Homo sapiens: one gene and its partners. The protein of the gene in region 2 interacts with the protein of the main gene of each other region in a pairwise test. Each region holds a gene or a part of one and is shown on either strand. Other genes may lie near its edges.

Region 1 (6,543 bases), on a different chromosome or scaffold from region 2:
ACACTAGATCAGTTGACAAAAGGTGGTCTCTCCGCTAGAGTAGAAGGAATCAAAGTCACTAGGTTATTTGGACAAAACCAGCAGAAACTGCAGGGAAAACAAGCCCAACAGCGGATTTCCTGAAGCCCTCATTCCTCCCCCATTCCGAGGAAGAAATCTACAAGTATAGAGGGAAAAAATAAAAACTTTCAAATTTTAGCAACAAATGGCTTTGGTGCGTTTGCATTCTCGCCAGTCTTCAAGGAGTAGATAATTTTTATGCTTCATAAACAGTTACAGAGCACAACAGGAAGAAAGACCTGCCAGTTTTGTTTCCAAATCCGGTTTACCTCTGATACTGGCCCCATCTCTGTCACCTTGCACTGCTGGCTCTATGCCACCTGCAGACTCTCGCGGCCTCTCTCTCCCTCTCTCACGCAGCACCCCTCACAAAATCTGGGACTTGGCACTCTCGGTCCCCCACAGGGATCAGCATTTGGATGAGAAAATACCAGGCTCGAGCTGCTCTTAACCACGTTTATTGAGAGGGGCCGGGGGAAGGGGATGGACGGTCCTCCCCGCGGCGGGGTTTTCAGCCCTCGCGGGTGGGCAGCGTCTTGTCCTCAGGTGTAGATGCTCCAGTCTCGGCTCAGCCAAACACTGTCAGGGCCCCCTGGAAAGCAGAAGCCGAGCTTGAGTGCCCCCAGCCCTGCCACCAAGAACTCAGGCGGGGGCGCGGCAGCGGCCGGCTCTGTGGGGAGCGGGAGCGGGGCGGTTCCGCTGGCGTCTCCGGGGGACGCGCACCCGCGCGGGGCCATCTCCGCCTTCCCCGCCCCTGCAGCTCGGATGCGCCCCACCCAGTTCCCACCCGGAGACCCGGGCTTCTCCCAGGGACAGGGCTTGGAGGGGCAGGACGGGAAACAGCCCTGACGTAGGGCCGGGACACCTCTGGTGCAGTTTTGAGGCTGGCCGGGAAGGGATGCCCGCGCAGGAAGGGCACCCGGGGTGCCCACTTTACCAGCAGGGCCTTCAGGGCCTTCACGGCCCCCACGGCCTGGGGACCCAGCTCAGCCACACACTTCTGGGAGCCCTCTATGAGGTGGTTCACGGGGATGCCCAGGCTGCTCAGCAGGAGCTTCAGCGGGTTGAGGGTGCCGAGGGGGTTGGCCAGGGTCCCGGCCCCGGCCTCCGCCGCCGACTCCAGCGCAGCGACAGGCTGGGCCACAGGCTTGGCCGAGCCCACTAAGAAAGCAGCAGCTGCAAGCGAACAGGGAGGGGTCACCGCCTGCGCGCCGGGGTCCCCAGAAGGCAGGTCCAGGACGCGCCCCCGCGGGAGGCGCCCAGGAACCGTCGCGCCCTGCCCGGCTCCCCGACCGCCCCTCCCTCCTGCGCCGAGGCCTGCCAGGTGCGAGCCCCCGGGACACAGGCGGGTCTGGGGAGGCGGCCCCGCCAGGAGACGCTGCAGGGTCACCGGAGTGGCCTGAGGGTGGCGGAAGGACCGGTGAACTCTGTGCAGGGTCCGGGACAGGCCCCCAAGGGAGGGGACACTCGCGCTGCGCCTTGCAGGATGAGGAGCCGGTCTCCAGACGGGGGGCAGACGGGTGTCCCCAGGCCAGGGGCGGCCTCCATCCCGGCACGAGGCTGGAGACAGCCCTGAGAGGGGGAGGCCGCGGGCTGCAGGCGCGGGGCCCCGGGGTGGCGGAGCCCTCTGGGCGCCGGGCGAGGCTGGAAGGACCTGGGATCCACGATCGGCGCAGGCAGCGGCGGGGGCGCAGCGGGCGCCGAGGCCTCAGGCCCCACCGTGCGCGCCAGGAGCCCGGGGCGCTCACCGGAGCTGCAGGACAGGGCCACGCAGAGCCCCAGGAGGGCGGCGAGCTTCATGGCGCGGGGGCTCGGGGCGCGCGGGGAACCTGCGGCTGCCCGGGCAAGGCCACGAGGCTTCTTATACCCGGTCCTCGCCCCTCCAGCGCCGGCCTCGCCCGCGCTCCTGAGAAAGCCCTGCCCGCTCCGCTCACGGCCGTGCCCTGGCCAACTTCCTGCTGCGGCCGGCGGGCCCTGGGAAGCCCGTGCCCCCTTCCCTGCCCGGGCCTCGAGGACTTCCTCTTGGCAGGCGCTGGGGCCCTCTGAGAGCAGGCAGGCCCGGCCTTTGTCTCCGCGAGGCCCACCCCGGCCCGCACCTTCGCTTTGCGGTCTGACCCCACGCGCCCCCCTGCAGGGCTGGGCCCGGGTGAGGGGAGCTTCCCTCGCGCCAGGGCAGGGGCGGGGGCGGCGCAGTTCCTGGCTCCCTGGTCCCTGCCTCTGATCCCAGACCGTGGCAACGTCGGGCACTGGGGGTCCTCGTGGGCGCCTTCTGCGCCTGGGGAGGTGGAGGCGCCAGGGACGATCAGGCCTCACTCCCGGCCGCCTCCCCGGCCGGGCCACAGGCAGCCACAGTGCAAACAGAAGTGGGGCGTTTTTCTGTCTTCGAAACTAGCCTCGACGCCAGTGGATGGGCCTGGTTTGTTCCTGAGTTTCTCTAAATGTCCTCACTCGTCTGTCACCTGCAGAAGTATGACAGATGGAGAGCAAAGCACATTTTGAAAACTTTTGCAAATGATACATAAACTAATTTGCTTTTAGTCCTTCTTCTTTCCTCTATTTTTTGACCCCAGGCATTGAGCACTGAGTGACTCACGTTTTGCTGCGTGGCTGCTCTCAGCTAGGTTGGTGCAAAGTCTCTCTTTTCTTTTGTAAAGTGTAGCTGGCACGCGTGGGAAACAGGCTCCCGGGTGGGAGGACCTGACTCTTCAGGCAGTGTCCTGGAATTCCTTCCCTATGGCTGACAGCACGTCTTAGCCCTCAGCCACCCCGAGCTACTGCGGCCTCCTCCGCACCTGCAGACACTTGTGCCTTTGCCAACTGTTGTGGCCAGGCACACGCATTCACACTGTTTCTGTTCACTTACACTTTTCCTTGACTATTTTGTTTGGGGGATTTTTGCATTATAAATCTGGAGTTTGGTTGTGTTTTGTTGGTCATCATGGAAGTAATTTTAATGGGAAATACGTTTTCTTTTTTAAAAACAGTTTGAAGTTAATTACTTTTTTGGTGGTGGTAAAGACACTGTCTTGCCGTGTTGCCCAGGCTGGTCTCGAACTCCTGAGCTCAAGCAATCCTCCCACCTCAGACTCCCAAGTAGCTGGGACTAGAGGTGTGAGCCACCACACTCAGCGGATTTTGATTTTGTTTTTTGTTTGTTTGTTTTTTGAGACAGTCTCACTCTGTCGCCCAGGCTGGAGTGTAGTGAGGTGATCTTGGTTCACTGCAGCCTCCACCTCCCAGGCTCAAGCAATTCTCCCACCTCAGCCTCCCAAGCAGGTGGGGCTATAGGTGTGCACCACTATGTCCAGCTAATTTTGTTTATTTTTTGTAGAGACAAAGTCTCACTGTGTTGCCCAGACTGGTCTTGAACTCTTAGCCTCAAGTGATACTCTTGCCTCAGCCTCCCAAAGTGCTGGGATTACAGGTGTGAGCCACCACGCCTGGCTTGATTTATTTTTATTTTTTCTAGAGATGGGGTCTCGCTACATTGACCAAGCTGGTCTCAAAATCCTGGCCTGAAGCAATCCTCCCGCCTCAGACTCCCAAGGTGCTGTGATGACACGTGTGAGCCACCCCGCACAGCCCAGCTTCACCATCTTAAGGGCACACTCCATTAGCATTAAGTATATTCTAATGTTGTGCAAACATCACCACAATCCATTTCCAGAACTCTTTTCCTCTTATAAAACTGAAACTCTGAGCCTATTAAACAACTCCCCACTCCCCTCCCCAAGCCCTTGGCACCACCATTCCACTTTCTGTCTCTGAATCTGGCCACTCCCGGCACCTCATATGAGTGGAATCGGGCAGTGTTTGTCTTTTGTGTCTGGCGTATTTCACTTAGCATGATATCCTCCAGGTTCATTCATGACCTTCAGAGTTTCCTTCCTTCTTAGGGTAGGATACTGCTCCATTGCATGGCTGTGCCACGTTTTCTTCACCCATTCACTTCACCCGTGGGTGGACATGTGGGCGCTTGCATGTTTTCACTGCTGTGAGTAATGCGGCCGTGAACACGGCTGTGCAAATGCCTCTTTGGGACCCTGCTGTTGGCTGTTTTGGGTGGCTGCTCAGAGGTAGAATGGCTGGAGCCTGTGGAACTTGCCTGTGTCATTTGTGAGGATCTGCCATCTCTCCCATAGCAGCGGCACCACGCTGCCTTCCCAGCAACAATGCACAAGGATCCCAGTGTGTCCACAACCTCATGATGCTTGTTCTTCTCCTGAGCAGGATCTGGCAGCCTTGGCCCAAGCAATCCCAGTGGGCGCATCTTGGGAGCTGACTTTGGGGCCACCTTTCCCCATGCTGCCTGGGGACCAGAGAACACTGACCGCGGGAAAGACCGATGCTGCCGAGGCCAGGAGGAGGGGGAGGCCGTCATCTGTGGGTCCCCAGCAGCGCTTGGGGTCCTGGCCACTCCAGCGGCCCCTTGCACCTGCCTCCAGGGATCCTTTGTCTTCAAAATAACCTCCCTCCACCTTCCGGCTCATAGTGCCTTGGGTGGATCTGTTCCCATTTCCCACAAGCCTGCAGGGTGGTGACAGGCCCTCATTCCCATGTGCCCCAAGATTTCGGATTCCAAAAATACATCCCCTGGCTCCCCGGAGAAGTGTGTCACGGTGTCTCCGTTTCACCACTGACAGGGCCAAAGGATGTGCTCTCCTCTCCCGAGCTGCCATGGTCAAGGCAAGCCAGGACTCACCTCAGGCTGGCCCAGCCCCTCACCCCACACTGGCTCTGGGGGCCACGGCTGGCGAAGCCTCTGCGGTAGTTGGGGATCAGGCAGGCCGAGGGTCTGGCCTGTGCCGAGACCTGCACAGCTGGGTCAGCGGCTGCCTCTGTATTCATTTCCTGAGGCTGCTGTGACAAGTCACCACATACCTGGTGGCTGAAAACAACACATTTACTCCGCTCGCAGTTCTGGAGCCCAGAAGTGCAGTGTCACGGGGGTGAAGGCGAGGCGTCGGGGGCCGCTCCTCCTCCAGAGGCTGGGCCTTCCCAGGAGCTTATCCACTCCTGGCCTCTCCCTGCTTATGGGGGCTGCCAGGGCCCCTTGGCTGGTGACTGCATCACTCCAGTCTCTGCCTCCTGGTCACATGGCCTCCTCCTCTTCTGTGTGTGTGGGTGTGTGTGTGAGGGTGCGTGGGGTGTGTGTGTGAGGGTTTGTCGGTGTGTGGGTGTGTGTGGGTGTGTGGGTGTGTGTGGGGGTGTGTGTGGGTGTGTGAGGGTTCGTGTGTGGGTGTGTGGGAGTGAGAGGGTATGGGTGTGTGTGAGGGTGTGTGAGGGTATGTGTGGGTGTGTGAGTGTGTGTGGGGTGTGTGTGAGGGTGTGTATGTGTGGGTGTGTATGTGGGTGTGTGTGAGGGTTCATGTGTGGGTGTGTGTGGGTGTGGGGATGTGTGGGGGTGTGTGTGTGGAGGGGTGAGAGTGAATATGCATGCAAGTGTGTAAGATGGACAGTGAATGAGAATGTGCATGTGAAGGAGAGTGAGTGGGTGTGAGCTTGTGGGTGTGTTTGAGTGTGAATGTGTGTACAAGTGTGTGTGTGGATAAGCGTGAGTCAGTCTGTGTGGGAGGGAGAGTGTGGGAGGGAGTGTGTGGGAGGGAGTGTGTGGATATGCATGTGTTTGAATTGTGTGCAAGTGTGTGTGAATGTGTGTGTGAGTGTGGGTGTGTGTGAGTGTGAAAATTCTGCCGCCATCTTATGAGTGTGTGTGTTGTTGCATTTAGGGCTCACCTAGATAACCCAGGACAGTCCCCTCATCTCACAATGACGCCCCCAGTCGGGCTGCCGAGACCGTGCCTGCTGAGCCTAACATTCCAAGGTTCCAGGAGCTGGGGTGTGGACGGACCTGGGGCCTGCCATGCCCTCCAAGTGCTGCCCTGCCCCTTGAAGGCCAGGCCAGGTGAGGCTTCCAGGGTGGGTGTCAGAGTCCGCCCGGCATGGGACAGGGGCGGGTGGGCAGCGCCCTCTCGTCAGCCTGGGCCTTCCCTGCCACTCCTGCTTGCGGCCCTTGCTGGCTCAGGTCTGCCGAGACACTGAGAAAGTGCTTGGCGCTGTCTGCAGACGACACGGTCAGCTTGTTCTGGGCAGTGTTTGCAGGGCATCTTTTGGGCCAAAATAAACACGCACACCTTGCCCACTCCCACGGAATGCAGGAAGAGCTGGAAGGTAAACAAGCACTTTGCGGCTCTGGGGAAGGGGCCAGATATTGAATTTGGGGCCTATTGAAAGACCTCAGGGCCTCGGAGCAGGGTACTCAGCCCCTGGGTGCTCCTGCTGGGGAGCCTAGAGGCTCACGGTGCCTCCGCCCGGCCCACGCTTTGGCGGTGCTTCCGCAGACACCTGTGGAGGGCTGTTCAGGTGGCAGATGCCCACTCTGATGCCCCCACCATGTCCCCATTCTCTCTCTGATGTCCTCTCTCTCTGAGGCCCCTGCTCTCTGTGATGCCCCCTCTCTTTGATATCCCTCTTTCTCTGGTG
Region 2 (8,077 bases):
TATTTTTTTAAATATAATAGAAATGGGGGTCTCACTATGTTGTCCAAAGGCTAGTCTCTAACTTGTGGGCTCAAGCAATCCTCCTGCTTTGGCCTCCCAAAGTGCTGGGATGACAGGTGTGAGCCACTGCACCCAGCCTTTCTTTTTTGTTTGTTTGTTTGTTTGTTTGTTTGTTTGTACAGACAGGGGTCTCACTATGTTGCCCAGGCTGGTCTCAAACTCTTGGGCTCAAGTGATCCTCCTGCCTGGGCCTCCCAAAGTGCTGGGATGACAGGCGTGAGCTGCTGTGACTGGCCAAAAACCAGGAAGTAAATACCGTGTTATACTTGCCATGGTAGAGATGTGTGTAGTGGTAGAAATAGAACAACCTGGCTGGGCACAGGGGCTCACGCCTGTAATCCCAGCACTTTGGAAGGCCAAGGCAGGTGGATCATGAGGTCAGGAGATCGAGACCATCCTGGCTAACATGGTGAAACCCCGTCTTTACTGAAAATACAAAAAAATTAGCCAGACGTGGTGGCGGGCGCCTGTAGTCCCAGCTACTCGGGAGGCTGAGGCAGGAGAATGGCGTGAACTCGGAAGGTAGAGTTTGTAGTGAGCCAAGGTCGCACCACTGCACTCCAGCCTGGGCGACAGAGCGAGACTCCGTCTCAAAAAAAAAAAAGAAATAGAACAACTTGGCCAGGTGCAGTGGCGCACGCCTATAATCCCAGCACTTTGGGAGGCCAAGGCAGATGGATCACTTGAGGCCAGGAGTTTGAGAGCAGCCTGGCCAACATGGCGAAACCCTGTCTCTACTAAAAATACAAAAATTAGCAGGGCGTGGTGGCATGTGCCTGTAATCCCAGCTACTGGGGAGGCTAAGGCAGGAGAATCACTTGAACCTGGGAGGTGGAGGTTGCAGTGAGCCAAGATCACGCCACTGCACTCCAGCCTGGGCGACAGAGTAAGACTCTGTCTCAAAAAAATAAAAAGAAATAGAACAACTTTAGAGATCTAATGACCCAAGTTCAAATCCTAGCTCTTCCACTAACTCACAGTGTGACCTCCTCACATCCTATTCGTCCCTCGGTCAATCTTATCTGTTTTCTTCATCAAAACCCTGCAAGATAAGACTTAGTTCCCATTTTATAGATGAGGAAACTGAGGCTCCCTTACCCAAGATCACTCAGGCAGCGAGTGAAAGAGCCAGGGTGAGGTCCTGCTTCCTCCTGACTTCCAGCCTGAGCTCCACCAGCTCCACACTGGCTGCTTCTCAAATGCTAATGTAGGAGCCATTAATGTCTCCTTTAAGGGAACATTAAAGGAAATGGCCAGTATAACATGGTATTTATCTCCTGGTTTTTGGCTTGGCTCATGCCTGGAATCCCAACACTTTGGGAGGCCCAGGCACGAGGATCACTTGAGCCCAAGAGTTTGAGACCAGCCTGGGCAACATAGTGAGACCTCTGTCTGTACAAACAACAACAACAAAAAGGCCCAGTGGGCTGGGCGTGGTGGCTCAAGCCTGTAATCCCAGCATTTTGGGAGGCTGAGATCTCAGGCGGATCACCTGAGATCGGGAGTTCGAGACCAGCCTGACCATCATGGTGAAACCCCGTTTCTGCTAAAAATGCAAAATTAACCGGGCATGCTAGCGCATGCCTGTAATCCTAGCTACTCGGGACGCTGAGTCAGGAGAATCGCTTGAACCGGGGAGGCGGAGGTTGCGGTGAGCCAAGATCACACCATTGCACTCCAACCTGGGGAACAAAAGCGAAACTCAGTCTCAAAAAAAAAAAAAAAAAGTGCAGTGTCTCACACCTGCAATCCTAGGTTTCCCTTAAGGGAAACGTGAATATCTCCTGCAACTGCCCTCTCCGAGCCTAAACCCTCTGCACAGCAAATGCAGAAAACTCTTTCTACAGAGAGCTAGGTGGGCTGACTGGCCATGCCATCCTAGACTGGTGTACCTCAGGTCTCCTCTTCAAAAAATATCTTGAAATTCTTGCCAGAAATTCAGTGTGAAATGCATTCGGGATGGTGGCTGTTGTTATAACAGTCCCCAGGGGTCTCAATTACGTGAGAACCCTCGGCTTCTGGACAAGAGACAAGGAAGGGAAGTAGGTCACATCCCAAAGGCATCAGGGCTAATAACTTTGCATTGAACATTTTCTGTGGCCCCACTGTGTGCTAGGTGCCAGGGCTGTGGATACAGACACAGGTATAAATCAGACATGGCTTCTGCCCTTGGTAAGCTCACAATTACGGGCACAAATATGCAATGATAGTATAATATGGGAAGTGCCTCAGGAGGCTGAGGCAGCGAACTGCTTGAACCAGGGAGGAGGAGGTTACAGTGAACAGACATTACAGCACTGCACTCCAGCCTGGGTGACAGAGCAAGACTTCGTCTCAAAAAAAAAAAAAAAAAATTCCTGGAAGACTTGTTGCCTAATTTTAAGTTACTTAACTTCTCTGTATCTCCATTGCTTCATCTGTAAAACGGGCGTAATTACAGAACCAGCCTCACAAGGGTTGTGAAAATGTAATGAGTAACTACATAAAAAGCACACAACAGGCTAGGCATGGTGGCTCACACCTGTCATCCCAGCACTTTGGGAGGCCAAGGCGGGACGATTGCCTAAGCCCAGGAGTTCAAGACCAGCCTGGGCAACAGAGCAAGATCCCATCTCTACAAAAAAGAAGCAGCTAGCTAGGTGCGGTAGCACGCACCTGTGGTTCCAGCTACTTGGGAGGCTGAGGCAGGAGGATACCATGAGCCCGGGAGGTCAAGGCTGCAGTGAGCTATGATTGTGCTACTGAAGCAGGACACACAAGCCCCAAAATTTAGCCTCCTTCCTTCAGAGCCAGCAGGAGCTTCTAAGCTATGGGGGGCAGCAGTTACAGCTGAGTCAAACCAAAGCCTGCAGCCAAGGGCAAGGAGCTGATAACACTAGGGTGGGTGTGTGGGGAAGGAGCCAAATACTTCTACCATGTGAGGGGAGGGAGTACTGGGCAGGGTCACTGGAGAAAGCGAAAAAGGTAGTACCCTTGAAGGTACTGCTGGGCACAGTGGCTCATGTCTGTAATTCCAGGACTTTGAGAGGTCAAGGCAGGCTTATCACCTGAGGTCAGGAGTTCGAGACCAGCCTGGCCAATGTGGTGAAATCCCATATCTACTAAAAATGCAAAAATTAGCTGGGCGTGGTGATGCACACCTGTAGTCCCAGCTACTTGGGACTCGGGAGGCTGAGGCACAAGAATCACTTGCATCTGGGTGGCAGAGGTGGCAGTGAGCAGAGATCACGCCACTGCACTCCAGCCTGGGTGACAGAGTGAGACTCTTGTCAAAAAAAAAGGAAGGTCTACCTTAAACAGCTGTTCTCCAGCAAAAGCACTTTTCAAACTGTAAAGTGCTGAAATAGATCTCGGTTATGAGTGTTCTATTACATCCCTAACTTTTGAGTCCCTTCCATTGAATCCCTCTCCCGTTTCCTGTCCCTTTTCCTTTTTTTTTTTTCCGAGATACAGTCTTGCTCTGTCACCCAGGCTGGAGCGCAGTGGTGCGATCTCGGCTTGCTGCAACCTCCGCCTCCTGGGTTCAAGCGATTCTCCTGCCTCAGCCTCCGGAGTAGCTGGGATTACAGGCACGCGCCACCATGCCGGGTTAATTTTTGTAGTTTTATTAGAGACGGGGTTTCACCATGTTGGCCAGGCTGGTCTCTAATTCTTGACCTCGTGATCCGCCCGCCTCGGCCTCCCAAAGTGCTGGGATTGCAGGCGTGAGCCACCGTGCCCAGCCTCCTGCCCCTTTTCTTCAATATGAAGATAAAGCTGCCCCTGGCTGTACTGGAGGCCAATTCCGGGCCATAGCAGGAGGAACTGAGTTCTAATTCTGTCTTTGCCATGTAACTGAATTACCCAGGGCCCTCCCTAGTCCTGTTTCCTCTTTGGTGTAATAGGGATGAATACAGATGGGAAGATCGTGATATGAAAGAGTTCTGTGAGCTGTAAGGCATAATAATCATGAGGTATTATTACAGGACCAACAGGTGCCTAGGCCCGCTGTGCAATAACAGACCAGTTACACTGAGGAAGCAGGGTTATCAGCAGAAAAAGGGTTTAAAGATGGCAGGGTGCCTAGGAGGAGACGCAGGGAGACCAACAAATCCATCTTCCCCAAGGAGTTCCGGGCTGGGATTTTAAAGGGCATTGTGAAGGGTGAGGGGCTGGAAAATTGGGGTCATCGACTGGTCAGGGTAAGGGGGTTGAAATCCTCAGGATATGGAAACTGCAGTCCCCATTGAGTCTTGCTTCTGTGGGCTCCTTCAGAACAACTGGTGTCAGTAATTATGCTGGTATGCGGGACCTGAAAGAATATCTCCAAGGGAAAACGTTTCATAATGTTCAAGTTGTTATCTATGGAGTTAAGGGGAATTGTAATCTTGTGACAGGGTCTACGTGATTCTAGGACAGACGATGGGCACCTATCATAGCTGATACACAGAGCTATGAGCAAGCAGGTCGGAGAGCAAGGTGACCTAGTGATGAACGCAGAGTGTGCTGCAAGCTTCGTTTATTTTCGTTTTTCCCCCTCCCTTCTTCCCTGATTAATTTCCTAAAGTTTATAGGAGCAGTTTCAGTACCAGCCCGAGTAGGATGGAATCAAACACGGTGCTGGAACATTCCTACCCGGAAGTGGCCCCGACCCCCCTCCCCCCGTCCCGGCCTCCCACGCACGGGGGGGGGGGGGGGGGGGGCTGATCGGCGCTACCGGATTGGACAACTTGGCATGGGGCGGGGCCTCTGGGAGGCGTGGCCTCCGGCCGGCTCCTCTGCTGTTGCCAAGGGAAACTGCCGCGAGGAGGCGGAAGGAGCAGAGGACCGGCAGCCGGCGTCGAGGCGGGGCGCGGGAACGACGGCGGCCATGGCGGCCTCGGGGCCCGGGTGTCGCAGCTGGTGCTTGTGTCCCGAGGTGCCATCCGCCACCTTCTTCACTGCGCTGCTCTCGCTGCTGGTTTCCGGGCCTCGCCTGTTCCTGCTGCAGCAGCCCCTGGCGCCCTCGGGCCTCACGCTGAAGTCCGAGGCCCTTCGCAACTGGCAAGGTGAGCAGGGGCGGGCCGGGATCGCGGGGCGAGTCCTTGTCCTCCGACTTTGCCGGTTCCTGGGCTCTAGCCTCCGGGACTCGCCCCTTCAGGCCTCACCGCCAGTCTCCCCCTGTCTCGGTCCTCATCACCATGCCCGCCCCCCGGAGGACCGACCTCCAGCACCGTCTCTTGCTCTCCGTGTTCCACACCTTTGTCTGCAGACCCCATCTTCGTCATCACTGTAATCCCTTCCCTACCCGAATTTGTTCCCTTCCCTGTCGCCACCAGACTGGTTAAGGCCCCAAATCCATTCGCTAGCAAATCCATGCTCGCTCTCCAAGGGTAAAGATTTTTCGTCTCCCCCTCCCATTTCACATACACACCTACGTCTGCTTTAGGCCTAAGCCCCACTGAAAAACGTTTTTCTCTCACCTACATCACGACAATTGGACTTTATCCACAAACCCCTATAAGCCCTATAAACGTCCTGCCCTCTTGAGATTTGGAATTTCTTCTGCTTTTTCATCTGTATCTTAATCTTGACTGCCATTCCCAGCTCATGGGGGTACCAGGGTGTCTTCTGCCTTTGGAGAGAAGTGTTTGTTTTTCTCTAGGGGAGAGAAATTTTGCAGACCAATTAAGTATAAACATCCATTCCTGAAAGACATTCCTAGTCTCCGTGTCTTCCTCATTTTCTCGAGAGGAACACAGGAAATTTGCATATCTCCTGCTGTTTTGCAAAGCACACACACTGATATGTATTAATTTCGTTTAACCCTCACAAGGATCCCATGACGTAGGACCTGTTATTGGCCCGTTATCTAGATAAGATTGAGGTTTCATGCAGAGAATCGCAGAGCTGTTGCGTCATGCAATTGAGATAGGAATCTATATTTTTTTTTTTATTCTGTGATGTTTTGGAACTAGAGCCTTCGGGTAGATAATCTCCAAATCATGTACAGTTGCTTCTAGAATCTTTTCATGTTTATACTTGGAATTTCAGTTTTGGAAATACTCAACAAATAATGAAGTACTCTTCAGATAATGAAGCCTCTGGTGATGGCCAGACTGAGGTATATGGTTCCATAGCCTGCTTCCCCACTCCAATCTAAAACTGTTCCCCCCACCCTAGGTATACATAGCACCACCTCACAGACAGAAGCAAAATGCCAACCTAACCTTAACCTCCCACTTTCTGGGGTTCACTGCTTCCCTGGGTGTGGGTTTCGTGGATATGTGAGCGTTAGAGACGTAAGGGACCTTTGAAGTCCTCAATCTAACTCTTGTTACTTTACAGTGAGGAAACTGACGCCTAGAGGACCTGTGACATGATTAAACTCAGCCAGCCTGGATGTAATAGAGCCAAGATTCCACTCCAAGTCTTTAGACTCCCAAGTCCAATATTACCATCAGTTCTTTGGTCTCTCTCCTTGAGTTTAGTCGTATTTGGGCATGCAGGGACATAAAAATACTTAAGAGATAACCACTTCTAAAATTTTTTTAGAGATAGGGTCTTCGTCTTACCCAGGCTGGAGTGCAGAGATGCAATCATAGCTCACTGCAGCGTTCAACTCCTGGAATCAAGCGAGCCTCCTGCCTCAGCCTCCCAAGTAGCTGGGACTACAAGTACACATCATCACACCTGACTAATTTTTAAATTTTTTTTAAAGACGGGGGTCTCACTATGTTACCTAGGCTGGTCTTGAACTCCTGGGCTCAAGTGATCCTTCCACCTAAGCCTCCCAAAATGCTGGGATTACAGGTGTGAGCCACCATGCCTGGCGATAACTGCTTTTAGAAAAATAAAAGGCCAGGAATGATGGTTCGTATGTGTAGTTTCAGCACTTTGGGAATTCAAGGCAGGAGGATCACTGGAGGCCAGGAGTTCAAGGCTAGCCTGGGCAACGTAGCAAGACTTTGTCTCTACAAATAAAAATTTAAAAAAAGGAAAAGGAGGATTCTTTGATGTCTTATTACATATAAAGCATCAGTTTACCTGTGAGATCGGATAAGCACTTTCTGAGGAGACTTATAATTTCTATAATCTTTATTGTTAATGATAGTGTTATAATTCTTACAGCTGCAAAATAATTCATGGTCCCTTTTTTCTTCCTCTGAACAGCCACTATGGAAGGAGGGGTCAGGATTACAGCAGAGGAGACTGGCACACAGAGTGTTAAGTGACACCCACTCAATCCACCCCGAAGCTGTTACACTTAATTAACCCTCAAACTGCCCAGTGAGGTAGGTCAGTATGAAAACCTGAAAAAGGATTATAAAGCACTTTACAAATTCAGAGACTGCCCTCTACCGAAAAGTATTATTTTTTTCCCTCTGGAAGTCAGTTACCGCTAAGAGTTGCACCAGGCCTGGGGAAGTGTAGGGATTAGATATTCATGCCTCTCCTTTGAGGCTCTGGGTCCTTCATTGTTGAACGCACTGCTTGTATTGCCTCCTGCTGCGACTCACTGGCTCTCACTTCTCTGTCACGGAGGGGGGCTCTCTGCCTTTCCTAGGCGGCTTATAACCTGGCTTCCCTCCTGGGAGCAACCCGCCGCCAGGCCTCTAACCCGACTCCCTCTGCAGTTTACAGGCTGGTAACCTACATCTTTGTCTACGAGAATCCCATCTCCCTGCTCTGCGGCGCTATCATCATCTGGCGCTTTGCTGGCAATTTCGAGAGAACCGTGGGCACCGTCCGCCACTGCTTCTTCACCGTGATCTTCGCCATCTTCTCCGCTATCATCTTCCTGTCATTCGAGGCTGTGTCATCACTGTCAAAGCTGGGGGAAGTGGAGGATGCCAGAGGTTTCACCCCAGTGGCCTTTGCCATGCTGGGAGTCACCACCGTCCGTTCTCGGATGAGGCGGGCCCTGGTGTTTGGCATGGTTGTGCCCTCAGTCCTGGTTCCGTGGCTCCTGCTGGGTGCCTCGTGGCTCATTCCCCAGACCTCTTTCCTCAGTAATGTCTGCGGGCTGTCCATCGGGCTGGCCTGTATCCTTCCTAGC
Region 3 (7,792 bases), on a different chromosome or scaffold from region 2:
AACCCGGTTGAGGAGGGTGTCTGCTGTCCCCCGGTGCAGGGGCTCTGGGCGAAGCAGGGCCACACCCCGGCGGGAAGGGCCCCCTCGAGACTCCTTCCTGAGGAAGGGAAAGATGCAGGGAAGGATAGGGTCAGGAGCAGCAAGCTGGATGTCTGAGGTCTGGAGAACAGTGGGGTCTAGGAACGACATAATGGCATTGGAAGGCAGGCACTGTGACCTGAGAGGGCATGGAGGTGGGAGGGCAGAGCAGAGATTTTCTGGAATGGTTCTAAGGGGAGAGATACAGCAAAAGAACTGGGGCCTCACCGGCTGCTGGGTTCTTCCCAGTGGAAGTCGACTGGCCAGCTCCGGAAGTCAAAGTTGTAGTTGGCAAGCTGCCTCTGCAGTGGGCACGAGAGGCAAAGGGGTACTGAGAACTCAGGGGAGGCTCTCCTACCCACCCTCAACAACACCTTCGTTATCCAGGGGTCTGATCCCCACACATCATGGGGAAACCAAGCGGAGGTCAATACCCTCCCAATTCTCAGATGGAAAATTCTAACAGGACCAGAAAATCAGGGGAGATGGTATGCCCCATCAGGTATCAGGACTGGCCTGTCTGCCCTCTTCCAAGCTAAGAACCTAACACTCTGCTTTTCTAAAAAACTAAGTCTGACCCATCCCCAGGAGGAGTGGCTGAAGGTGCTAGTGCTTTTGAGTGACGGGTAGTAGGGGTCGCTGGCTGGTCACGGTCTATTCCCCACCTGGGTCCCTTATAGGGTGCTGTCTTAGAAGCTTAGAAATCTCCCAGCAGATCACACTGACAGACCCAAGGTTGAGTGAGACAGAGAGGAGGGAAGTCACGCCCACAGTGGGCTCCTCTGCCATGTGGGGCCACCCGTTGAAGGAAGCTCTGACTTCCATCCTCACAACTACATCCCTTCCTCAACTCCTGCAGCCATGGATCAGTGTTGCCCTACAGCCCATCCGAACCTCGGGCCACCCCACTGAGCCAGTCCACATGCCTTTTTTTTTTTTTTTGAGGCAGGGTCTCGTGCTGTTGCCCAGGCTGGAATGCAGTTGGTGCAATCATAGCTCACTGCAGCCTCAAACTCCCAGGCCCAAGTGATCCTCCTACCTTAGCCTCTGGAGTAGCTGGGACTACAGACATGTGCTACCATGCCCAGCTAATTTTTAAAATTTTCTTTAGAGACAAGGTCTTACTATGTTGCCCAGGCTGGTCTCCAACTCCTGGGCTGAAGCGATCCTCCTGCCTTGGCTTCCGAAAGTGCTGGGATTATAGGCATGAACCACCTCACCAGCTCCACGTTTTTTGACGGCAGTGGGAGCTGTGTCTTTTTTTTTTTTTTTTTTTTTGAGATGGAGTCTCACTCTGTCGCCCAGGCTGGAGTGCAGTGGCACGATCTCGGATCACTGCAAGCTCTGCCTCCCGGCTTCACGCCATTCTCCCGCCTCAGCCTCCAAGTAGCTGGGACTACAGGTGCCTGCCACCACCATGCCCGGCTAATTTTTGTACCTTTAGCAGAGATGGGGTTTCACCATGTTAGCCAGGATGGTCTTGATCTCCTGACCTCGTGATCCACCCGCCTCGGCCTTCCAAAGTGCTGGGATTACAGGTGTGAGCCACCGCGCCCGGCCTAGCTGTGTCTTAATACTTGACTATATTCGTCCCCCACCCCCTGAGCTCCTAGCACTCTATTTTGAGGGTTTTTATTTTCTGCACAGAAATTTTTTGACATTTCAAAAATAATTTGACTAACAGAGAGCAATAGAAAAATTATACAAAAAGGTAAATGGCAAAACAAAACAAGATGACTAAAAGCAAATTTCAGGCAGGCTTTGCTCAGACCTGCTCTCAAATCTGGACTTAGCCACTTTCTTGCTCTATGACTCCGAATGGGTCACTTAACCTCTTTTTGCCTCTGTTTTCTCACATTTACAAATAAAGGTAATAATGCCACCTCACTCAGCTGTTGTGAGGATCAGAAAGGGTGTGTGCCAAATGCTTCAGCCAGTAGCATAGTACAGGGCATCATTACGCAGCTCCATAGTGTGGAGTAGCCAGGAATGTGATGATGGTGGTCATAGCTGTTTGATCCTAGAAACCTCCCATAACAGAAAAGAGCTCTATGGGGCCCCAAAGCCCATCCTCAAAGATAATCACAGTCCAGCACCAGCCGGCTTGGCATAATTCCCAAGACACTGAGCCCTAGCTTTTCTCCCTCCTGGCACCATGCTGTACTCCCAGGCATAGGAGTGGACACACCTGTCCACCTTGTCCCATCCACAAACAAGGATAGCATGGTATTCAATGCATACAACAAAATTAAACATTTATAGAACTGAGCTGCTGTGATACAGAGAAAACTACCTTCTAAGAAACATTGTGGGCTGGGTGCAGTGGCTCACACCTGTAATCCCAGCACTTTGGGAGGCCAAGGCAGGTGGATCACCTGAGGTCAGGAGTTTGAGACCAGCCTGACCAACACAGCTAAACCCCATCTCTACTAAAAATACAATATTAGCTGGGCGTGGTGGCGCATGCCTGTAATCCCAGCTACTTGGGAGGCTGAGGCAGGAGAATCGCTTGAACCCAGGAGGCGGAGGTTGCAGTGAGCTGGAATCATGCCATTGCACGCCAGCCTGGGCAACAAGAGCGAAACTCCATCTCAAAAGAAAAAAAAAGAAACACTGTGGGCCAGGCACAGTGGCTCACACCTATAATCCCAGCACTTTGGAAGGCCAAGGCAGGCAGATCGTCTGCAGTCAGGAGTTCAAGACTAGCCTGGCCAACATGATGAAACCCTGTCTCTGCTAAAAATACAAAAATTGGCCAGGCACGGTGGCTCACGCCTGTAATCCCAGCACTTTGGGAGGCCGAGGCAGGCGGATCACAAGGTCAGGAGATCAAGACCATCCTGGCTAACATGGTGAAACCCCGTCTCTACTAAAAATAAAAAAATTAGCCGGGCGTGGTGGCAGGCGCCTGTAGTCCCAGCTACTCAGGGGGCTGAGGCAGGACAATGGCATGAACCCGGGAGGCCGAGCTTGCAGTAAGCTGAGATGGCGCCACTGCACTCCAGCCTGGGCGACAGAGTGAGACTCCGTCTCAAAAAAAAAAAAAAAAAATTAACTGGGCGTGGTGGTGTGCACCTGTAATTCCAGCTACTCAGGAGGCTGAGGCATGAGCATTGTTTGAACCCGGGAGTTGGAGGTTGTAGTAAACTGAGATTGTACCACTATACTCCAGCCTGAGTAAGAGTGAGACTCTGTCTCAAAGAAGAAAAAAAAAAAAAGAGGCCAGGAGTGGTGGCTCACGCCTGTAATCCCAGCACTTTGGGAGGCTGGGGCAGGCAGATCGCCTGAGGTCATGAGTTGGAGACCAGCCTAGCCAACATGGTGAAACCCCGTCTCTACAAAAAATACAAAAATTAGAGGGTGTGGGTGGTGCGTGCCTGTAATCCTAGCTACTCAGGAAGCTGAGACAGGAGAATCACTTGAACCTGGGAGGTGGAGAGTGCAGTGAGCCGAGATCGTGCCATTGCACTCCAGCCTGGGCAACAAGAGCGAAACTCCATCTCAAAAAAAAAAAAAGAAAAAGAAAAAAGAAACATTGTGGAATGTTTCTAGTTTAGCCAGTTCTTACAGGTGAGGGAGGGGGAAGATTGTTCTAGCAGAATATTCCATTAGAAGTGGTAGGGAGGAAAAATTCCTCAGGTGGACAGTTCACTAATGGAGGTGAGAAGGGATACAGCAATGTGCAAGCAAACACCCAGTGTGGTGGGTGGTAAAACACACCTCCTCTTCCTGCAGAAGCCAGTGTCTGGTGCTCTGAGGGACAACTGAGAAAGCTGCTATTGGGTGCCTGTGTGGCACTTTTCCTAGGGCCTCTCACCTTGTTTTCTGAAGACTGGTTCCGATGTGTTGCTTCCAAGATGGTGATGAACTGCCGGTACTGGGGGTTGGTCCAGCGGCCAATGCCTGGTAGAAAAAGGACAGGAAACAGTGCTAGGAAAACTGGGAAGCAGAAAGCCTAGGTTTTAGGAAAAGAATTGGAGATGGGCTAGAAGAAGGCCCTGTAAGAAAAAGTGAAAGAAAAAGGAACTGAGGGCATAGGATGCGGAGAAATAGATGTGAGCCAACCCCCTTCCTCCAAATCCAGCAACTGGCTACAGGACGCTTCTTCTCCCTAGCTTCTGCAGTTTGTGTCTTTATAGACAATCCTTAACCTACCATCTTCCAGAATGTTCCTCTTCCTCAGTCTTTAAACACTGTCATATAACCTATTAAATGACACTATTAAACACTATCATATAATACTATTCTCCCTTGCGAATATCAAATTTCTCTATTTTTCACTGCCATTCTTCTCCAATGTTTGCTTTCTGCCTCTTTTCTGTATATTCTAGCCCCTTGCCATCTGGCTTCAGAGTCTCCGACTCCTGCCCATAATTACTTCCTCACTGAATTCCTGACTCTTCTATCCTCATTCTCTTCAACTGTACTACTCAGCATTCTCCCTGTCCCTCAAGATTCTTCCTGCCTCTGCTTCCTGGGCCCATCCTTGACTCCTTCCAGTTCCTGAACAGTTCCTCTCCTGCCTCCTTTCTGCTTTCCTTTCTGAAGCAGAAGCAACTCTCAGTGCTGACTCTCTCTCCTCTCTCTTTTCACTTACACAGTCAGTGATTGCATCCACTCTCCTTTCACTGCTGAGCCACCTCAAACCCTAACTTCTCTCCTCACTGACTTGGCAGGTGTCGTGTGTCAGACAGGCACCGTACTACACACGGGAGACTCAGCAGGAAATGAGATACACAGCTCCTGGCTCTCAGAGAGCTGGCATTCTGGTTGGGGTTAGGTACAGCCAGGAGAAGACAATAAACAACATTTCAGAGAGGGATAAGTGCTACAGAGAAAATACAACAAGAATGAACCAGAACTTTATGTGTCATCAATGGTATTCCCCCAAAACGATATGATGAGAGAATGATGTGTGCTGCAGAATGATTTGTACAACATTTATGCCAAAAATGTAAAATGTGCAAAATAATACATACTGCTTATAGATACCATATTTCATAGATTCTAAAATGTATATTTTTTAACCCTTGAAAACTCTGAAATTAGAATTCATTTTACAATTGATGGCAGCTTAGACTTGAGGAACTGAGGTATATGTTTCATAAAAGTATGTGCCAGAAAAAAAAAAAACCCACACCAAATGACAATTATTACTTCTGAGGAAAGAGGAAGATGGGACTGAAAGGATTCCAATGGGAACTCCAACCCTAACTGTGGTGCTTTAGTATTTTGTTGACAGAAAGCATTTAAAGCAAATATCACAAAACTATATATAAAAAAAAAATCACAAAACTATACATCAAAAAATTTAAAAAGGCTTTTATATTTTGTTCTCTGGACTTTTCTGTATTTTTTCTTTTTTCTTTTTTTTGAGACAGTTTTGCTCTTGTTGCCCAGGCGGGAGTGCAATGATGTGCTCTCGGCTCACTGCAACCTCCGCCTCCCGGGTTCAAGTGATTCTCCTGCCACAGCCTCCCAAATAGCTGGGATTACAAGCGCCCGCCACCATGCACAGCTAATTTTTTCTGTATTTTTTCTAAATTAAAAATAAATAAAATAAAAAACTAAGACAAAACTGAGCAGTGGGAGCTACTTTTAGACAGGGTGGTCAGGGAAGGCCTCTCTGAGGAGAGAGCCCAGCCCTGCAGAGATCAGGGGGCAGAACACCTCAGGCAGAAGGTCCTGGACCCAACTGCGACCATCCAGCCCTGACCCCACCACCCCCATGTTGAAGCATCGCCCATCACCTGGTTGTCATCTTATGTACCCACTAGGGGTAGGTGATCTGTCCTCTTTATTTTTTTAAATTGCGAGATACAACATATGTACATAAAACATATATTCAGTTTAAAAAATACAAAGCAAACATTCATGTGACTATCACCTAGGTCAACAAAGAGAACACAGCCACCTCTCAGCAGGGCTCTCCCCCACTCTGTTCTCCCCCACCCCAGGTAATCACTCTCCTAACTTTTGAGAAAACCATGCCCTTGCTGGGCGCGGTGGCTCAAGCCTGTAATCTCAGCACTTTGGGAGGCCGAGGCGGGTGGATCACGAGGTCAGGAGATTGAGACCATCCTGGCTAACACGGTGAAACCCCATCTCTACTAAAAAATACAAAAAAACCTAGCCGGGTGTGGTGGTGGGCGCCTGTAGTCCCAGCTACTCGGGAGGCTGAAGCAGGAGAATGGCGTGAACCCGGGAGGCGGAGCTTGCAGTGAGCCGAGATCGCGCCACTGCACTCCAGCCTGGGGGACAGAGCGAGACTCCGTCTCAAAAAAAAAAAAAAAAAAAAAGAAAACCATGCCCTTGTTGTCTTCGGTGTTCTACCTCAAACATGCACATCCCTTTTGAATTTTATATAAATGAAAACATACTGCATACATTATTTTGTGGTTAGCTTCTTCTATTTAACACAACATTTGAGAAATTCATCTGCATTGCTTTTGTTTATCTGGAGACAGAGTCTCGCTCTGTCACCCAGACTGGAGTGCAGTGGTGCTATCTTGGCTCACTGCAACCTCTGCCTCCCAGGTTCAAGCAGTTCTCATGCCTTAGCCTCCCAAGCAGTTAAGACTATAGGCATGTGCCACCATGCCCAGTTAATTTTTTGTATTTTATTTTTTCTGAGATGGAGCCTTGCTCTGTTGCCCAGGATGCAGTACAGTAGCGCAATCTTGGCTCACTGCAACCTCTGCCTCTTGGATTCAAGCAATTCTACTGCCTCAGCCTCCCGAATAGCTGGGATTACAGGTGCTCACCACCATACCTGGCTAATTTTTTTTTGTATGTTTAGTAGAGACGGGGTTTCACCATGTTGGACAGACTGGTCTTGAACTCCTGACCTCTGGTGATCTGCCTGCTTCAGCCTACCAAACTGCTAGGATTACAGGCATGAGCCACTGCACCTGGCTTCATCTGCGTTGTTGAGCGTAGCTACAGTTTGTTCATTTGCATTGCTATATAGTGTTCTCTTGCATGGCTATTGCATGGAACTTTTTTTTTTTTTTGAGACGGAGTCTTGCTCTGTTGCCCAGGATGGAGTGCAGTAGCGCAATCTCGTCTCACTGCAACCTTTGCCTCCCAGGTTCAAGCTATTCTCCTGCCTCAGCCTCCTAAGTAGCTGGGATTACAGGCACGTGCCACCATGCCCAGCTAATTTTTGTATTTTTGGTAGAGACGGGGTTTTACCATGTTGGTCAGGCTGGTCTCAAATTCCTGACCTCGTGATCCACTGGCCTCTGCCTCCCAAAGTGCTGGGATTACAGGCATGAGCCACCACACCCGGCCACACAGAACATATTTTATCCATCCTACTATTTGTAGCCACTGGAGTTGTTTCCAGCTTAGGATTATTACAAACAATGTTGTATGCTGTATTCTTGTACATCTATATTGTTTATACATGTGCAGGAGTTTTCCTAGTATGTATACATATATAGAATTGTTGTAGGGTATATGCATCTTTTCTAGATAAAAGCAGCCAGGCATAGTGGCTCACATCTATAATCCCAGTACTTCGGGAGGCTGAGGTGGGAGGATCACTTTGAGTTCAGGAGTTTGAGACCAGCCTGGACAACATGGTGAGACCCTATCTCTTAAAAAAAAAAAAGCAAACCTTTTTGTTACTTTTCAGTTATTTTTTCATATTTATAACCCAAGTCTTTTAAGGAAAAGATCATGCCTTAAACCATTCTCAATGATTCCCTCT
Region 4 (7,020 bases), on a different chromosome or scaffold from region 2:
AACCATATAGGCAGAGTGCAGAATATAATCCCACTTTGAAAATGGATAACACTATATTAAGGGTATTGTTTCTTGGGAAAATCCACAATGCTTACTCTGAAACTTTTAACTCAAGAATGTCAAAGCCACACTGGTATGCAGGTACCTTCTCCTCTTAAAAATATAGATGAGGCCAGGCGCAGCGGCTCACACCTGTGATCCCAGAACTTTGGGAGGCCTAGGCGGGTGGATCACCTGAGGTTAGGAGTTCATGACGAGCCTGGCCAACATGGCAAAGCCCCATCTCTACTAAAAACACAAAAGTTAGCCGGGTGTGGTGGCGTGCACCTGTAGTCCCAGCTACTTGGGAGGCTGAGGTAGAAGAATCACTTGAACCCAGGAGGCGGAGGTTGCAGTGAGCCAAGATCGTGCCACTGCACTCCAGCCTGGGCAACAAGAGTGAGACTGCATCTCAAAAAAAAAAAGTATATATATATATATACTTTTTCTCATATATATATATATATGAGAGAGAGAGAGAGAGAGGAGTATTTTGGTATCAAGCACCACATGAAGATGTTTCAAAACTTGAACCGCCTAATGTAGTGCGCATGTTAAGCAGACTTTAAAAGAGATCCTGGCCGGGTGCGGTGTCTCATGCCTATAATCCCATCACTTTGGGAGGCTGAGCTGGGTGGATCACCTGAGGTCAGGAGTTCGAGACCAGCCTGGCTAACATGGTGAAACCCCATCCCTACTAAAAATACAAAAATTAGCTGGGCATGGTGGCGGGCACCTGTAATCCCAGCAACTCGGGAGGCTGAGGCAGGAGAATCGCTTGAACCAGGCAGGCAGAGGTTGCAGTGAGCCAAGATCATGCCACAGCACTCCAGCCTGGGCGACAGAGTGAGACTCTGTCTCCAAAAAAAAAGAAAAAAAGAGAGAGTGATCCTAAGTAATCATTCATACCTATCTTCACAAAATATGGTCAATTCTGGGTTTGGGGGGCTGATATTTGAGATTATATATAGAACTAAATTGTTTCACTCACGACATAGAATCATCCAAACTGCATGTACACACAAATGGCTTTATGCAAAGGCCCTGACAGAACGATATTTAGTTTTTCAGATTAGGTACATAGGGCCAACCAGCCCACCCTGTACATTCCAGCAAGTGCAAGAGCAGCAACTTTCCTATTTCAATACAATTATGGGCAGAAATTATATGATGTAAAATAGAGGCCCTTCCATAAAGTTAAGATTTAGGGTAGAAGAAGGGAAGATAAAACCAAAATTCCCATGAAGTCAAAATTAGACAGTGGTCTTGTACTCTGCTGAACCCTGTGATGAACTGTAGTCCTCAAACTCATGGACTCGGATCCAGGTTCACCAAGACACTTCAGTATGCTTCCAACTGTTTCATCATCATCTTCCTGCTGTATTCGTAGGCCACAAACAGTGCCCCATTGGCAGGGATTGCTCGAATCATAGTAGCTTTCAGTCCAGAATATAAGGCTACTATTCCTTCATTTCTCACAACACTTAAGAGGGTACCAATAAATCCTGCCTGTTTCCCATACATGGAAAGAACTTGAATTCTGGATTTAATACAATCCACTGGGAACACGACAAGCCACAGGCAAATTCCAGCAACTCCACCACTTAACATCAAATGGACAGGGCCTAGTTCATCTTTTGATCTCCCTGACGCAAAAAACGATCGGCTCAGTTCATAGCCACCAAAGAAAAAGAAATAACCCGGTACTTCTTGAAGTAGAGTACTCGAGAGTCCATGGTAGAAGCCCAAGGGGCCATCCTTTTTAAGGATACCCTTCACGACAGACCAAATTGTATTATGGCTTTTTGCTATCTTCCCTGACATCTCCATTTCATACATGGTCTGTAGCCGGCACTTCACAAGCTCAGTGGGGCAGAGAGCCAGTGCAGCAAATGCAGAGGCGAAGGACCCCGCGGCTGCAGTCTGGAGATCACTCAGCTTTGCCTGCTTGTCCATTCCAGCCACTTTCCTGACAAACTGCTGGCAGAACCCGTAGCACATGAAGAGGACCGAGTTTTCGGCGACGTAGGCCATAAGTGCCGGGCCGGTGCCCTTGTAGAAGCCCCGGAGACCCACTTGAGCGTATGTCTTCAGGAAGCAGTCGGTGAGGCCCTTGTACAGGTCAGGGAACGTCTGCATCTTCACTTTTATTGTGTCGAAGGGCTGCCCAGTCAGTACACACGCTGTCCCCCCTGCGGCCCCCGCTGTGAGGTCGATGGCGGCTTGGATGCCAGGACCGGACTTCATGTTCGCTCACTCGTCTGAGGGTCCCAGTGGAAGGCGACTAACTCCCCAGAGCGTGAGACCGGCTTTTCACGTCCAGCCGCAGCGAGCGCGGGGAATGGAGTTGGGGGTGGTGGGGTGGCTCTACCGCCTGTTCTGGGCTCTCACCCCAGTGCGGGGGAAGCCGCTCAACCCTACGCTCCGCCGCGGGCCGCCCCCTCCCCGCGCACTAAAATAACCCCCAGCTGCCGGCCCAGCGCGCGGCTCACTAGCGTTCCTGCGGCTCCTGGCGCACTGGCCGGGCCCCCAGCCGCCTCCAGCCTGGAGCCGCCATCCCTGCACCCGCAGGCGGGGGACGCGGACCGAATAAATACTTTTAGTGTACTGCGACTGGGCGCGGTGGCTCACTCCTGTATCCCAGCACTTTGGGAGGCCGAGGCGGGAGGATCGCTTGAGCCCAGGAGATCGAGACCAGCCTGGGCAATATGGCAAGACTCCATTTCTACAAAAACGAAAAAATACCCGGGCGCGATGGCGCGCGCCTGTGGTCCCAGCAATTCAGGAGAATGAAGCGAGGATCGCTTGAACCCGGGAGGTCGATGCTGCAGTGAGCTATGATCGCACACTGCACTCCAGGGTGGGCGAAAGGGTGAGGCTCTGTCTCAAAACAAAACCAAAACCAAGAAAACATGTAAAGCTTTTCGATAAATTCTTGCAATTATGGCCGGGAACTCTAGACGCCGCAGTTCAGCTGGCGGCAAAAGAAATGCTGTCCTAATCAGTCAGCCCTGCTTCTTTTCTTTTCTCTCTTTTTTTTTTTTTTGACTTAGGGTCTCACTCGGCCGCCTAAGCTGGAGTTCAGTGGCGCGATCCTGGCTCACTGCAGCCCCAATCTCCTGGCCTCAGGCGATCCTCTCACCTCAGCCTCCTGAGTAGCTGAGACTAGAGGGACTACAGGCGCAAGCCACCACATCTGGCTAAATTTTGTATTGTACAGACGGGGTTTCGCCATGTTGCCCAGGCTAGTCTCGAACTCCTGAACTCAAGCAATCCACCCACTGGCCTCCCAAAGTGTTGGGGCTTACAAGCATGAACCACCACACCCGGCCTATCCCACGCTTCTTACCATGCAAAAAACAAAAACAAACAACCCGAAAAGAAGATGCCCTCACTTGAATAGACCCTGAATTCAGAGGGTCAATCTACAAGAAAACTGCTTTAAAGTAGATAAGACAGGCCAGGTGTGGTGGCTCATGCCTGTAATCCCAACACTTGGAGAGGCTGCGGAGGGAGGCTCATTTGAGCCTAGGAGTTCAAGGCTAGCTTGGGCAGCAAAATGAGACACCCCTTACCCCCTACAAAAAATAAAGTAGAGAAGACAAACTGTCAGAGGCGCTGGAACCACAGCAACTCCATCTTGACTAGGGACTGAGTAAAATAAGGCCGAGACCTACTGGACTGCATTCCCAGGAAGACAGGCATTCTAAGTCACAGGATGAGATAGGAGGCCGGCACAAGATACGGGTCACAAAGACCTTGCTGATAAAACAGGTTTCAGTAAAGAAGCCAGCCAAATCCCACCAGAATCAAGATGGCATAATAAGTGACCTCTGGTCGTCCTTACTGCTCATTATACGCCAATTATAATGCATTAGCATGCTAAAAGACACGCCCACCAGCGCCGTGTCCACTTACAGATGCCATGGCAACAATAAGAAGTGACCCTATGTGGTCTAAAAAGGGGGAGGAATCCTCAGTTCCGGTAACTTTGGACCCCTTTCCCAGAAACCTCATGAATAATCCACCCCTTGTTTAGCTTACATTCAATAAAAAACTGTAAGTATCCTTAGTCAAGCCGCCCAGGCCACTGCTGTGCCTATGGAGTAGCCATTCTTTTGCTTCTTTACTTCTCTAATAAACTTGCTTTCACTTGACTCTATGAACTTGCCCCAAATTATTTCTTGCATGAGATCCAAGAACAATCTCTTGGGTCTGGATCGGGACCCCTGTCCGGTAACGAAACGATCTGAGGGTTGCTACATGAGAGACAGTGACTGCTTTTGATCAGAAAACCCTCAGCGATCTGCCCACGCTCCTCACTTTCCTGGGGGGCAAGGAGGGGAGTAGGGCACTGTGGGAATCCTTAGCCCTGGAGATGTGCTACTGCTTTCCTGCAGAGCTGGAGAAATGCTATCACATGGCAACATCCCCAAGGATCTGGGGTTGCAGCCCTGGGAACTGGTGGAACGTGGAGTCCTTATCATTTCTGAAGATAGAACACGGCACTATAAAATCAACTTGGAAAATGGATAGTATTTATATACTGCATTGCTAAGAAACTTGATAGAAAAGAGCTGGGTGGCTCAGCACTATGCTTTCTAAGTTTTGAGATTCTCTTTGAGGACCCACACAGCCTCATGCAGAAGTAGAAATTTGTCGTTTGTACACTGTTGGTGGGAATGTAAAATAGTTCAACCCCTATGGAAAGCAGTATGGAGATTTCTCAAAGAACTAAAAATAGAACACCCATTCAACCCAGCAATCCCACTATTAGGTATCTACCCAAAGGAAAAGAAATCATTTTATCAAAAAGACACCTGTGCTGGGGACAGTGACTTACACCTGTAATCCCAGAATTTTGGGAGCCCAAGCCAGGTAGATCGCTTGAGCCCAGGAGCTCCAGACCAGCCTGGACAACATGGCAAAATGCCATCTCTACAAAAAAATACAAAAAGTAGCCATGCATGATGGCATGCCCCTGTAGTGGCAGCTACACAGGAGGCGGAGATGGGAGGATTGACTGAGCTGAGTTGGAGGCTGCAGTGAGTTATGATCCAGCCTGGGTGGCAAAACAAGACCCTGTCTCCAAAAAAAAAACCAGAAAACATCTACACTCATATGTTTATGGAAGCACTATTCACAACAGGAAAGTCACAGAATCAATGTAAGTGTTCATCAATAGTTGATTGGATAAAGAAAATGTGGTATATGTATACCACGGAATACTATGCAGCCATAAAAAAGAATGAAATTATGTCCCTCACAACATGGATGGAGCTGGGGGCTGTTATTCTAGGTGAAATATCTTAGAACCAGAAAATCAAATACTGCATGTTCTCACTTATATAAGTGGGAGCTAAACAATGGGTACACAAAGACATAAAGATGGGAATAACAGACACTGGGGAATCCAAAAGTGGGGAGGGTGGGAGGGATTGAGGGTTGAAAACCTACCTGTTGGGTACTACATTCACTATGTGGGTGACGGGTTCACTAGAAGCCCAAACCTCAGCGTTACACAACATACCCATGTAACACACCTGCACATGTACTCCTTGAATCTAAAATGAAATTCAATTTAAAAAGAAGTAGAAGTTCGGGATACAAATGACATGTCTAGCTTTCAAAGCAAGATGTTTTTTGGACATTAGTGAGGATACCACTGTCAGGACACACTTCTTCCTCCCAGATATTTATAATCCCAGCATTGGAATGAATTCTCTCCAGGCTTACATTCCAAGCCGTCGTCGGCCATGGGTAGTAAAAACAAAATCTGGGGGGAAGAAAGTATGCTGAAAGCATTCTCTTTCATTTAGAAAACTTTCCTTGTCTAATTATCCTTGGCTGTCAATTAAAAGTGAGGTACTTCAGAACAAAGGTCTCTGAGAAAATTTAAAAAAAAATTTTTTAATGAGGTACTAAAAAGCAAATTGTGCATGGATAATTTGTCACCAGGTAGTCTTCACTGTAGTAAATAGTAATCTGGGCTTTTCTTTGGGAAATGCCCAAATGTCAGCAGTTGCAGTTCTTTTCTCTGGTACCACATAGTTTCCTCAGAGAATGCTCTATGAGCTTTGACTGTGTGTGTGCAGGGTGTGGTGGGGGAGAGGTAGGTTATAAACCTAGATACTGATTTAAAGAGAACAAGAGAGGGGAAGAGGGATGACACACCTGGAGTAAATATACAGACTTTCACATAATTTTTTCCTTATTTGACACTGTGCCTACTTTCTCTGAGTTTGGGCCTTCTTTGGTTCAATTTATCCAGAAAATAAAATTTCCATCTTCTGTGGGATGGAAAGAGTTATCTGGCTTCATAGAGTGGGATAGAGATCCTGGACACCCAACAACTCTGAACACAGACTTTAATGAATCTCACATCTCTAACCCTACACCTTCCCACCTTCCCTGGAATCTTCTGCTTGCAAAAATTTTGCATCTTACAAGGCTCTGTCAAGTGGGTTTGTCTCTCTTTGGTATAACTACTTGCAGACATTTAGCATGTAACTTTTTCTGATCTATGAATTCATTTATCATTTCTCTGTTTTGGCCTTCAGATAATGGGTTGACATCTCTCATCCACTGTTGTCTCATTTCCTATTCTCTTTGTCCTTAGAAGTTAACATCTTTTAAAAATCCTTTCTGTTGTTTTATTTAGCAGCCTCTTAGGTAAAGCAGAAAGGATGAGAACAATCTGCAATTTGAAAATAGAAAACTTCATTAGGATTTTTAAATCCTTCATGTCATATTTGAGGAATTTTTTTCTATGTTTTGATTTCACTTTCAGGAAAGGGAACGGGGGAAAAGGGTTTTGTTTTGGTTTGTCTTGCTCTGCTGCCCAGGCCAGAATGCAGTGGCACAATCATGGCTCACTGTAACCTCAACCTCTCAGGCTGAAGCAATCCTTCCACTTTAGCCTCCCATGTAGCTGGGCCAGAGGTGTGCACCATCACACCCAGCTAATTTTTAAATTTTTTG

The links.
Region 1: the proteins of RHBDD2 (region 2) and SCGB3A1 interact in binary tests that used the Homo sapiens proteins (3 or more experiments, as listed by UniProt).
Region 3: the proteins of RHBDD2 (region 2) and ABHD16A interact in binary tests that used the Homo sapiens proteins (3 or more experiments, as listed by UniProt).
Region 4: the proteins of RHBDD2 (region 2) and SLC25A2 interact in binary tests that used the Homo sapiens proteins (3 or more experiments, as listed by UniProt).

Annotation. Positions count from the first base shown.
Region 1 is NC_000005.10:180,589,603-180,596,145, forward strand, and holds SCGB3A1 (secretoglobin family 3A member 1 precursor), read right to left. Parts: upstream 1,898-6,543; 5' UTR 1,861-1,897; coding exon 1,809-1,860; intron 1,237-1,808; coding exon 998-1,236; intron 653-997; coding exon 629-652; 3' UTR 503-628; downstream 1-502. UniProt on the Homo sapiens protein: Secreted cytokine-like protein. Inhibits cell growth in vitro.
Region 2 is NC_000007.14:75,874,174-75,882,250, forward strand, and holds the start of RHBDD2 (rhomboid domain-containing protein 2), read left to right. Parts: upstream 1-4,860; 5' UTR 4,861-4,909; coding exon 4,910-5,087; intron 5,088-6,072; exon of another isoform or gene 6,073-6,142; intron 6,143-7,191; exon of another isoform or gene 7,192-7,317; intron 7,318-7,655; coding exon 7,656-8,063; intron 8,064-8,077.
Region 3 is NC_000006.12:31,693,053-31,700,844, forward strand, and holds part of ABHD16A (phosphatidylserine lipase ABHD16A), read right to left. Parts: intron 3,982-7,792; coding exon 3,896-3,981; intron 381-3,895; coding exon 307-380; intron 98-306; coding exon 1-97. UniProt on the Homo sapiens protein: Phosphatidylserine (PS) lipase that mediates the hydrolysis of phosphatidylserine to generate lysophosphatidylserine (LPS). LPS constitutes a class of signaling lipids that regulates immunological and neurological processes.
Region 4 is NC_000005.10:141,301,580-141,308,599, forward strand, and holds SLC25A2 (mitochondrial ornithine transporter 2), read right to left. Parts: upstream 2,471-7,020; 5' UTR 2,287-2,470; coding exon 1,381-2,286; 3' UTR 1,056-1,380; downstream 1-1,055.